2 separate regions of the Homo sapiens genome follow, and region 1 is linked to region 2. A link means that fine-mapping ties the variant in region 2 to the expression of a gene that starts in the linked region. Tissue or cell type: subcutaneous fat. Region 2 holds a variant in brackets; the other region holds the start of a gene. All regions are shown on one strand. Distances are between the middles of the regions.

What was found. PIP is the estimated chance that this variant, and not a neighbour inherited with it, causes the effect. A credible set is the group of variants that fine-mapping cannot tell apart.
Region 1: LINC02066 starts here. The variant in region 2 is the best candidate, but not a certain one, in a credible set for the expression of LINC02066 in subcutaneous fat (FUSION, PIP 0.63).

Annotation. Positions count from the first base shown.
Region 1 is chr3:151,550,176-151,554,534 of GRCh38, forward strand. LINC02066 (long intergenic non-protein coding RNA 2066) reads left to right here and starts at 1,982. Exons shown (of 5, transcript NR_183765.1): 1 at 1,982-2,086. It also overlaps a transcript of IGSF10 not described here.
Region 2 is chr3:151,625,479-151,629,478 of GRCh38, forward strand. The region is part of intron 1 of LINC02066 (long intergenic non-protein coding RNA 2066); the gene reads left to right. LOC105374157 (a long non-coding RNA gene) reads left to right here. Exons shown (of 3, transcript XR_924581.3): 3 at 1-135. Among named protein-coding and RNA genes, the nearest start is that of MIR5186, 61 kb to the left of the region's middle. The variant G/A (reference allele first, on the strand shown) is at 1,849.

The sequences.
Region 1 (4,359 bases), 75 kb before region 2:
CATCATGGAATTGTACACAATTTCACAATTTTACCTGAGGCAAAAGAAAATCTTATTCCATTTTGGCATATCTCCGGAGTAGTGAGTTTGACATTTTCATCCTGATTTCCCTCTGGTCAAACATTTGAATTTTTTTACTTGTTATCAAGGAAATGTTGTGAAATCTTCTAGATTGTCTTTTATAATCTTTAATTGAGAATTTATTTTTAAGTGTTCTTGTGTCCGGGCCAATAGAAAAGAACATATTCCAAGAGCTTTCTCGGACAAGAGAAAGGGCATTTGAGGTTTCTGCACATATCCTCTGGATACAGTGAGGCAAAGAATCCAACTTGGCAAAATTAATTCATGAAGAATTTAATTACACAAATGGCTATTTAAAATGTTTCTTTTCGGGGGTGTTTTGGGATAGGGATGGCACATATGGCTACCAACTAGATCTTTTTTTTAGGTGTATTTAGAGACCTGATTTTTAAAAAAGAAGTTGGTCATTACGATTTTTTTCTCGTTTTTTACATTTCTACTGTCTGACCATGCCCTGAGCCATGAACTCAGCTGATCTGACCATCTCTGGCTTCATGTGGCCAGCACCAAATTAGATTGTGTCCATGTACCCTGGAGTTGATCCTATCATTTCTTGCTGTCTGTTGGCCCTTCATATCCTGGTCTGTTCCTGTTCTTGATTCCTGACATCTGGCCTACGCTCCTGCCTGCGATTGTATGCTTGCCCGATAAATCTGAGGCTGATGTTGCTCCCTTGGTGCTGTCATTTGGCTCTGCTCCTTGTCCCCATTGGCTCTCACTCCTTGTAATGGACTTACCTGGGCCAGTCCTGCTAACAACCCAGCATGGTTCAGTGTGGCCCCTGAAAACCCATCTCAAGATTAACTTGCCTGTGTGTCTACAAGGTTTGACCTTGTCCTGCCAAGCAAACTCAGACCATACTGGCAACCAGAGGTGAAGAGTGGTTTCTTGGCTTGCAGAGAAATTTGCTGTGTACTGAATAAAAACCTTTTTGTTCCCTTAAACACAGATGTTAACTCCCTTTGATGCATACTTATAAGCTTTCAATGAGTTCAGTGGTTTCCTATTTAATTTATTATTATTTTTTAAATAACTTATAGTCATCCCTCAATATGTGGGGGATTGGTTCCAAGACCCCACTCCACAGTATACCAAAATCCACACATCCTCAGGTATCACAGTCAGCCCTGCAGAATCTATGTACACAAAAAGTTGGCCTTCTATTTTTCATGTGTTTTGCATCACCTCAATAACGCATTTTTGATCTGAGTTCAATTGAACACAATCCAAAAACAAAAAAGAAAGAAAAAATCCATCTATAAGTGGATCCATACAGTTCAAACTCATGTTGTTCAAGGGTCAACTGCACTTTAATTTGAGGAAAGGTTAATCAGATGTCAAATACAAGAAATAATTTTCAAGATATAAAATTTTTAAGATATAAAATGCCTTGGAACATGGGCATTACACACACACACACACACACACACACACACACACACACATCTGAAGGCATATTTGTTGAGGTTTCAATTTTTCATTAAAATATTTTAATTAATTTAAGGCATTCTATTCTTGCAATTTAAATATTAATTGAGGATCCTTCTTTTAATTTCAAGAATTTTAAGTTACAAAATCTAGAGCCTATATTCAAACATTATATGGAAAAAACTAGGAATTCTAGTCTTAGCTGTGATTCAAACAAGTTGTGATCATTTTGAACAGGACAATAATGCCATTGTAATCAAATCCAATGCTCATAATCACTCACTGCATGATGTGGTTTGGCTCTATGTCCCCATCCAAATCTCATGTTGAATTGTAATCCCCAGTGTTTGCGGAGGGATCTGGTGGGAGGTGATTGGGTCACGGGGACAGATTTCCTTCCCCCTTGCTGTTCTTGTGATAGTCAGTTCTCATAAGACCTTGTTGTTAAAAAGTGTGTAGCATTTCCCCCTTTGCTCTCACTCTGTCTCCTGCCAGCCATGTGAAGGTGTGCTTACTTCCCCTATGCCTTCCACTGTGATTGTAACTTTCCTGAGGCCTCCCCAGCCATGCAGAAACTGTGAGTCAATTAAACCTCTTTTCTTCATAAATTATCCAGTCTCAGGTACTTCTTTATAGCAATGTGAGAATGAACTAATACACCGCATGACAGCCAATACGTACAGAGACAAGGTGTTGGGGCAAGGAAGGCAACTTTATTTGGAGAGCCAGCAAACCGAGAAGATGACAAACTAGTGTCCTTAAGCAACATCTTAAGTAAATATGAATTTCAGGAATTTTATTTTCCTTTTATGTTAGGGGAAGAGGGAGGGCATTAAGATCAATAGACCTATGACCACGGACATCTGGGTGGCAGTGAGGGTCCGAGGAGGTTCTCAATCTTCTTTCTTCTCAATCAGTTGGCTTTGGATGATGTAAGTCAGGTCACAATGTTCCTATAAATCTTTAGCATAACATTGTTAGTCACATGCATCCTCTCTTATCTCCTCAGGGGGTTAGTGCTGGGAAAGAAACTATTATTATTCTTGCTTTAAACTATAAATGAAATACCTCTCATAGTTCGCTTTGCCTACATGCAGAGATAAGCAAAAGCAGTTAACCTAAAAGAAATGACTGCAGTGATGGGGTTAGGAGCAAAATGAAATTAGTCATGATAGGCCTTCTTTTTACTGTTAAACCATCTGGCATAATATCTAAGAGGAAGTGGTTATATTACATAATTTTTAAGGACCCCATTAGTTTTACGGCTCATCCATGTCTATGAATCCAAGTGATGACTCCAATACCTTTATCTCTAGCTCCTGCCCAACCCTAATAAAATTAAAAAATACATGCAAAGCTATATTTTCATATAACTGAAAATATAATAAATGTAGCTTTATAATATAAATATACCTTTCTAATACAAAGTAGAAACTCATGTATACATCTATGATTATAGAGATGCCTGTAACAATTACGGTTATACATCTGAGTGTTCTGCTGAAGGGTTAGCAATTTTGGATAGATGGTAATATAAAGACAAATTATCTTAAATATTTTGTGAAATTTACTTTCCTTTATTTCAGCAAAATCACATATCATTGTTGTAATCAAAATTTTCACATAATCTGCATTCTAATGAAGCTAATGAGAAGATAATCTTTCTTGAGTTTTCATTAAATAACATTTTTATTTATTTTAAGTTGGAAAACTATTCTTTTGAGTCAGTAGCTATTAAAATTGTCAATAAAAGTTCTTAAAGCAATACTTAGATTCAGAAATGAACCAAAAATGTTTCATACCATGTTAAAACATTAGAATGTGATCAGTTATGACAAATCACTATCACAGATTCTTAAAACTAGTTTAAATTTTCTTATAATGTATATCATGACTTCCACTTTCTTTCAGAGCTCTCTCTCTCTCTGTGTCTCTGTCTCTCTCTCTTTCTATATATATACAATATATATTTACAATATATATGGTATTTCTTAATTTTTTCATCTTCTGAGTTTTTCAATACTAGCATATTATAAAGCAAACCAAAAACAATGATACATTCCTCAAGTTTTTCAAAAGTCTCCTCAGTCAAACCCTATGTTGAAAAACACTGGGCAGAAAATATTTTCATTAGAATTTGCTTTTGAGGCCAGGCATGGTGGCTCATGCCTGCAATCCCAGCACTTTGAGTGACCAAGTTGGGAGGAGCACTTGAAGACAGAAGGTGGAGATCAGCTTGGGTAACAAGCTAGACCTTGTCTCTAAAACAACAGCAACAATAACAACAACAAAAAAAAAACAAAAGAAAAATAGTAGCCAGACACAGTGGCGTACTCCTGTAGTTCCAGCTACTCCAGAGGCTGAGGCAGGAGGATTGCTTAAGCTCCCAAGTTTGAAGCTGCAGCGAGCTGTGATTGCACCACTCTAGCCTTGGTGACAGAGTGAGATCACACACACACACACACACACACACACACACGCAAAGTTGTTTTTGAGATTCTTAGACATGAACTTCTTCTTCCTAGTCAAAATTACAAAAGTTTTTGCTTTTCCCTTAAATTCCAAAGATTTTATTGGAATAGCACTTTGCTGCATTGTTTGAATGTATTTTAACTCTAAAAATAAAAATAAAAAAATTATATACTTTAAAAAAGTCAATAGCCCATCTTAGATCAGCCTGTTTTTTTTTCCTTTTTGTAAATTTTGCTAACATCTTTAGTACCAAACAACTTCATAATAAATAACTAAGGCTAGCAAAATATTTCAATTTTTGCCAAAGCGATTTTCTCCATGTTTGGGTACCTTCTGTGATTTTGCCTAACTCTCATAGTTCATTACCTATTTTATCTA
Region 2 (4,000 bases):
CCAAGACAGTGAATCACAACCCAAATATCAGCCCCTCCCCATCAAAAGAAGAGATTATTCTGTTTCTGGTGTCTAAGGATTATTAAATATTTGAGATGAATTTATATTAATATGTTACCTTAAATACAAACAATCAACAAAAGATTAAGCTGTCTGTTTTGTGATCTTATTTATTTCTTCAAGAAACAATGAAAACTTCTCATTTGGTTTTGGAACTTACTATTTGGAACTTTATGATACAGGATATTGTATGTTAGCCTGAGTCCACCTCCCCCCTTGAAAAAGGATAGTCAAATAATAAACTTTGCCAACTCTGAGGCTCTGTGTATTCCTGTTCCTGCTCTGAGTGTCCAGGAAGAACAGCAGACTCCTAAGAACATTAATGAAAACAACAACAACAACAACAGCAACACGTGAAGGTTACATTCACAGAGAGATCTGCCATAACCAGCACAGCAGCTGGTTGAAAGCTACAGAAGAGACTGAACTGATTCAATGCATGTCAAGAGTTTTTTGTTTGTTTGTTTGTTTTATTTTAAGTTCTGGGATACATGTGCAGATGTGCAGGATGTGCAGGTTTGTTACATCGGTAAACATGTGCCATGGTTTGATAGGTGGTTTGCTGCACCTATCAACCCATCACCTAGGTATTAAGCCCAGTGTGCATTAGCTATTTTTCTTGATGTTCTCCCAACCCTCACCCCCTGACTGGCCCCAGTCTGTGTTGTTCCCCTCCCTGTGTCCATGTGTTCTTATTGTTCAGCTCCCACTTATAAGTGAGAACGCAGTATTTAGTTTTATGTTCCTGCAACCCAAAGGAATATATATCCTTCTATTATAAAGATACATGAACCTGTATGTTCATTGCAGCACTATTCACAATAGCAAAGAGTTTTTAACTATGAGTTCCTTTAAACTTCTTTATCAAATAATTAGCATTGGAAAATATCATCATCTAGAAGTTTCTGCGGATGTCTACTCACAGTAGACTGTGTCTTCGTAAATGGATGGGCCACCTCAAAGATTTTGGTAAGAGTGGGCATAAATGGGCATGTAAGTGATCACATTTTTTACTTCACTGGCAAATAAAAATGGGGTTACTTATTTGCCTCCTATGGAAATTTAAGATTCTACTAATTTGTATGCTTTCTCTTAATTATTTACTACTTTTCAATAGGAGTGAAGTACCTGGAGTCACAGGCCTAGCTTTGGTTTCTTTGGGACAGCTTTTCAAAAATGGTGTTAATCACTTAAAAATATGTCTAAGCTCTTACAGTGCTAGGCATTGTAGGAAAAATACAGCAAGTCATTTATTGGTCATAAAGACCTTACAGTGAAATGGTGAGTGGAGAAGGGAAGAAGTTTGCAGACTTCCTTCTAAATAAGACTCAGACAGAAAGCAATGGAAGTTCAATGGAAAGGAAGGTTGCAGTGACATTAGTTTTTTATTTTTTCTTATTTTGCAGTGACATTGATTTGAAAAAGACATTTGGGAAATATGTAGAATGTGCCTGGGTTTGCACTTTGCTTCTGGAATTCACTAACGATGTGATTTAAGGCAAATTTCTCTCACTGGAGTGCAGTGGTATGATCATGACTCCCTGAAGCCTCAAACTCTTGGGCTCAAGCAATCCTCCCTACTCAGCCTCTCAAGTAGATGGGACTTACAGGCACACCATCATGCCTGGCTAATTTTTTAAATTTATTTTTTGTAGAGGGTCTCACTGTGTTGCCTGGGCTAGTCTCAAACTCCTGGCCTCAAACTCCTGGCCTCAAGCTATCCTTCTGCCTTGGCTTCCCCAAATGCTGGGATTACAGGCATAAGCCATCACACCCAATCTAAGGTGA[G/A]TTTCTTAACCGATCTGAGCCTCATCATTTCTTCATCTGTAAAGCAAGCACAGTCTTTCCTAATGTGCATTGAGGTTACAGGTAATCAAGAGTGCATGCTAAGCACTTGGCATTTTGTCTGGGACAAGGTAGGTGATATTGTCATTATTAAGAAAGATCAGGAAGGGCACCCCACAAGCTTGAGGTCAGAATGCCTAGCAATTGGAATTACTCAACATCTGAGTTAAGGCTGGGCTCTAACACTAGTTAGCTGGGCACCAAGGAAAACTCAGCGTAGGATGGATATTGTGTGCTGATGAAATGCTACATGGGGTGGTGATATTTACTGCCCCAGGTTCGTCATGGTGTGGAGAAGGTAAGGTGTGATCCTAAATATGAAGCCCCTTTAAAAGGCAATTATCAGCCATACAAATCAGGAACACTAGCATATAGAGAGCAATTTGAAATTTGTATTTGGCAGGTGTGTCTTGGAGAATCTCTAGGGAAAATATGTCCTCTTAAAAACCTTAGAGGATCTGTGAAAAATGTACCTTGCTGCCCCATCTGAAGGCTTCCATACCTCCTCTTCTTTCCTCAAACCCTCAGATGGGACATGGATTGCTTCCTTCTGTCTCTTCATTACCGGGGATAGTATTAATTCTTTGGTGTTCTTTATTATCCTTATTTTTATTATTATGTGAGAAATTTATTAGTAAAATTTTCAGTAAGTAGGATTACAAGCTAGTCTACCTGTGGATAGAATTGCAGCATATATAATACAATGAGAGAGTAGGGAGGGGAGATAAGGAAGCAAGGAAGAGAGAAAGGGAGAGAGTGATTTGTTTAAATTTTTAAATTATTTTATTTTATTTTATTTTGAGACAAGATCTCGTGTCTCCCAGGCTGGAGTACAGTGCTGTAATCGGCTCACTGCAGCCTCGACCTGCTGAACTCTAGCAATCCTCCCACGTCAGCCTCCCTAGTAGCTGGTACTACAGGTACATGCCACCACTCCCGCTAATTTTTTGTTTTTTTTGTAGAGACAGGATCCCACTATGTTGCCCAGGCTGGTCTTGAACTCCTGGGCTCAAGCAGTCCTCCCGCCTTAGCCTTCCAAAGGTTGGCATCAGACACCACAATTCAAGAAAATGAAATAAATTAACAAAATTATTAGGCTAAACCGTGATTTTTTTTCAGACACTGAATTTAAGTTTCTAGGTGTGTGCATTAGTAAGATCTAAAAACATTTCTCTTTTATAGGAAAAGAATTGAAAACTTTGAGAAAAAGATAAAGTGCCCAAATCAAAGCATGCAGAGCTAACAAATGGTAGAGCCGGCAATTGAACATAGGTCTCTCCATAGGCAAAGCCTATGTATGCCCTTTCCAGGGCACCAGGCTGCCTCCCTTAGCCTTGGCACTTGACTTTGATACTGGATACTCTTTTTAAAGACGATGTTATGTAAGTATACAAGGGTTACTTGTTTATTGCTTTTTAATTCACTCTCTACCCAGTATTTAACTGAAACTCTGACTTTCAAGGAAGTGTTATCTGTTATTAACAGACGTCAGGGTATAACAAAAATAAATTATTTTTATTTAGTAGTTTAGGTAACTTCCTGCCTTCAACATTTAATGCTTTGTTCAAACTTCTATGTAGAGAAGAATCTAGTTCATAGATATTTTTCATAATGATCATTCAAAGAAGTGGTGTTCACAAATCGGTGGTTATCTCAATTAGCTACCATCTTCCTCCTTTATGAGCATTTCCCTTCTCCTTTCAGACAGAAATAATATCTCTCTCCTTGGTGCTCCAACAGCGCTCTGTGCCTCTTCAATGGCAAAGCTGCATTTGCTTTGTCTTCTTCCTTGGCGGCTATAGTTTTGATCTAGACTGTAAATTCCCCACTAGACCATAAGTTCCTGTATCCTTCATTTGTAATATCTTAACAATATTCCAAGTATTTATTAGCCTAATTAAATTTTATGTGCCGTATTTTTAAACCGTTTCAGAGGAATTAATTTTAACAATGACTGGGTTATTTTGGTCAGATAATTCGTGAATAATAAGGAACATTAAAGCACTAACTAGTCCTGGTAATGGAGAGGCAGAAGGAAAGAATTTGGTGCTGGACCTAATGGCTGGAAGAAAGGATGAGCTGTGGAAAGGTTTTA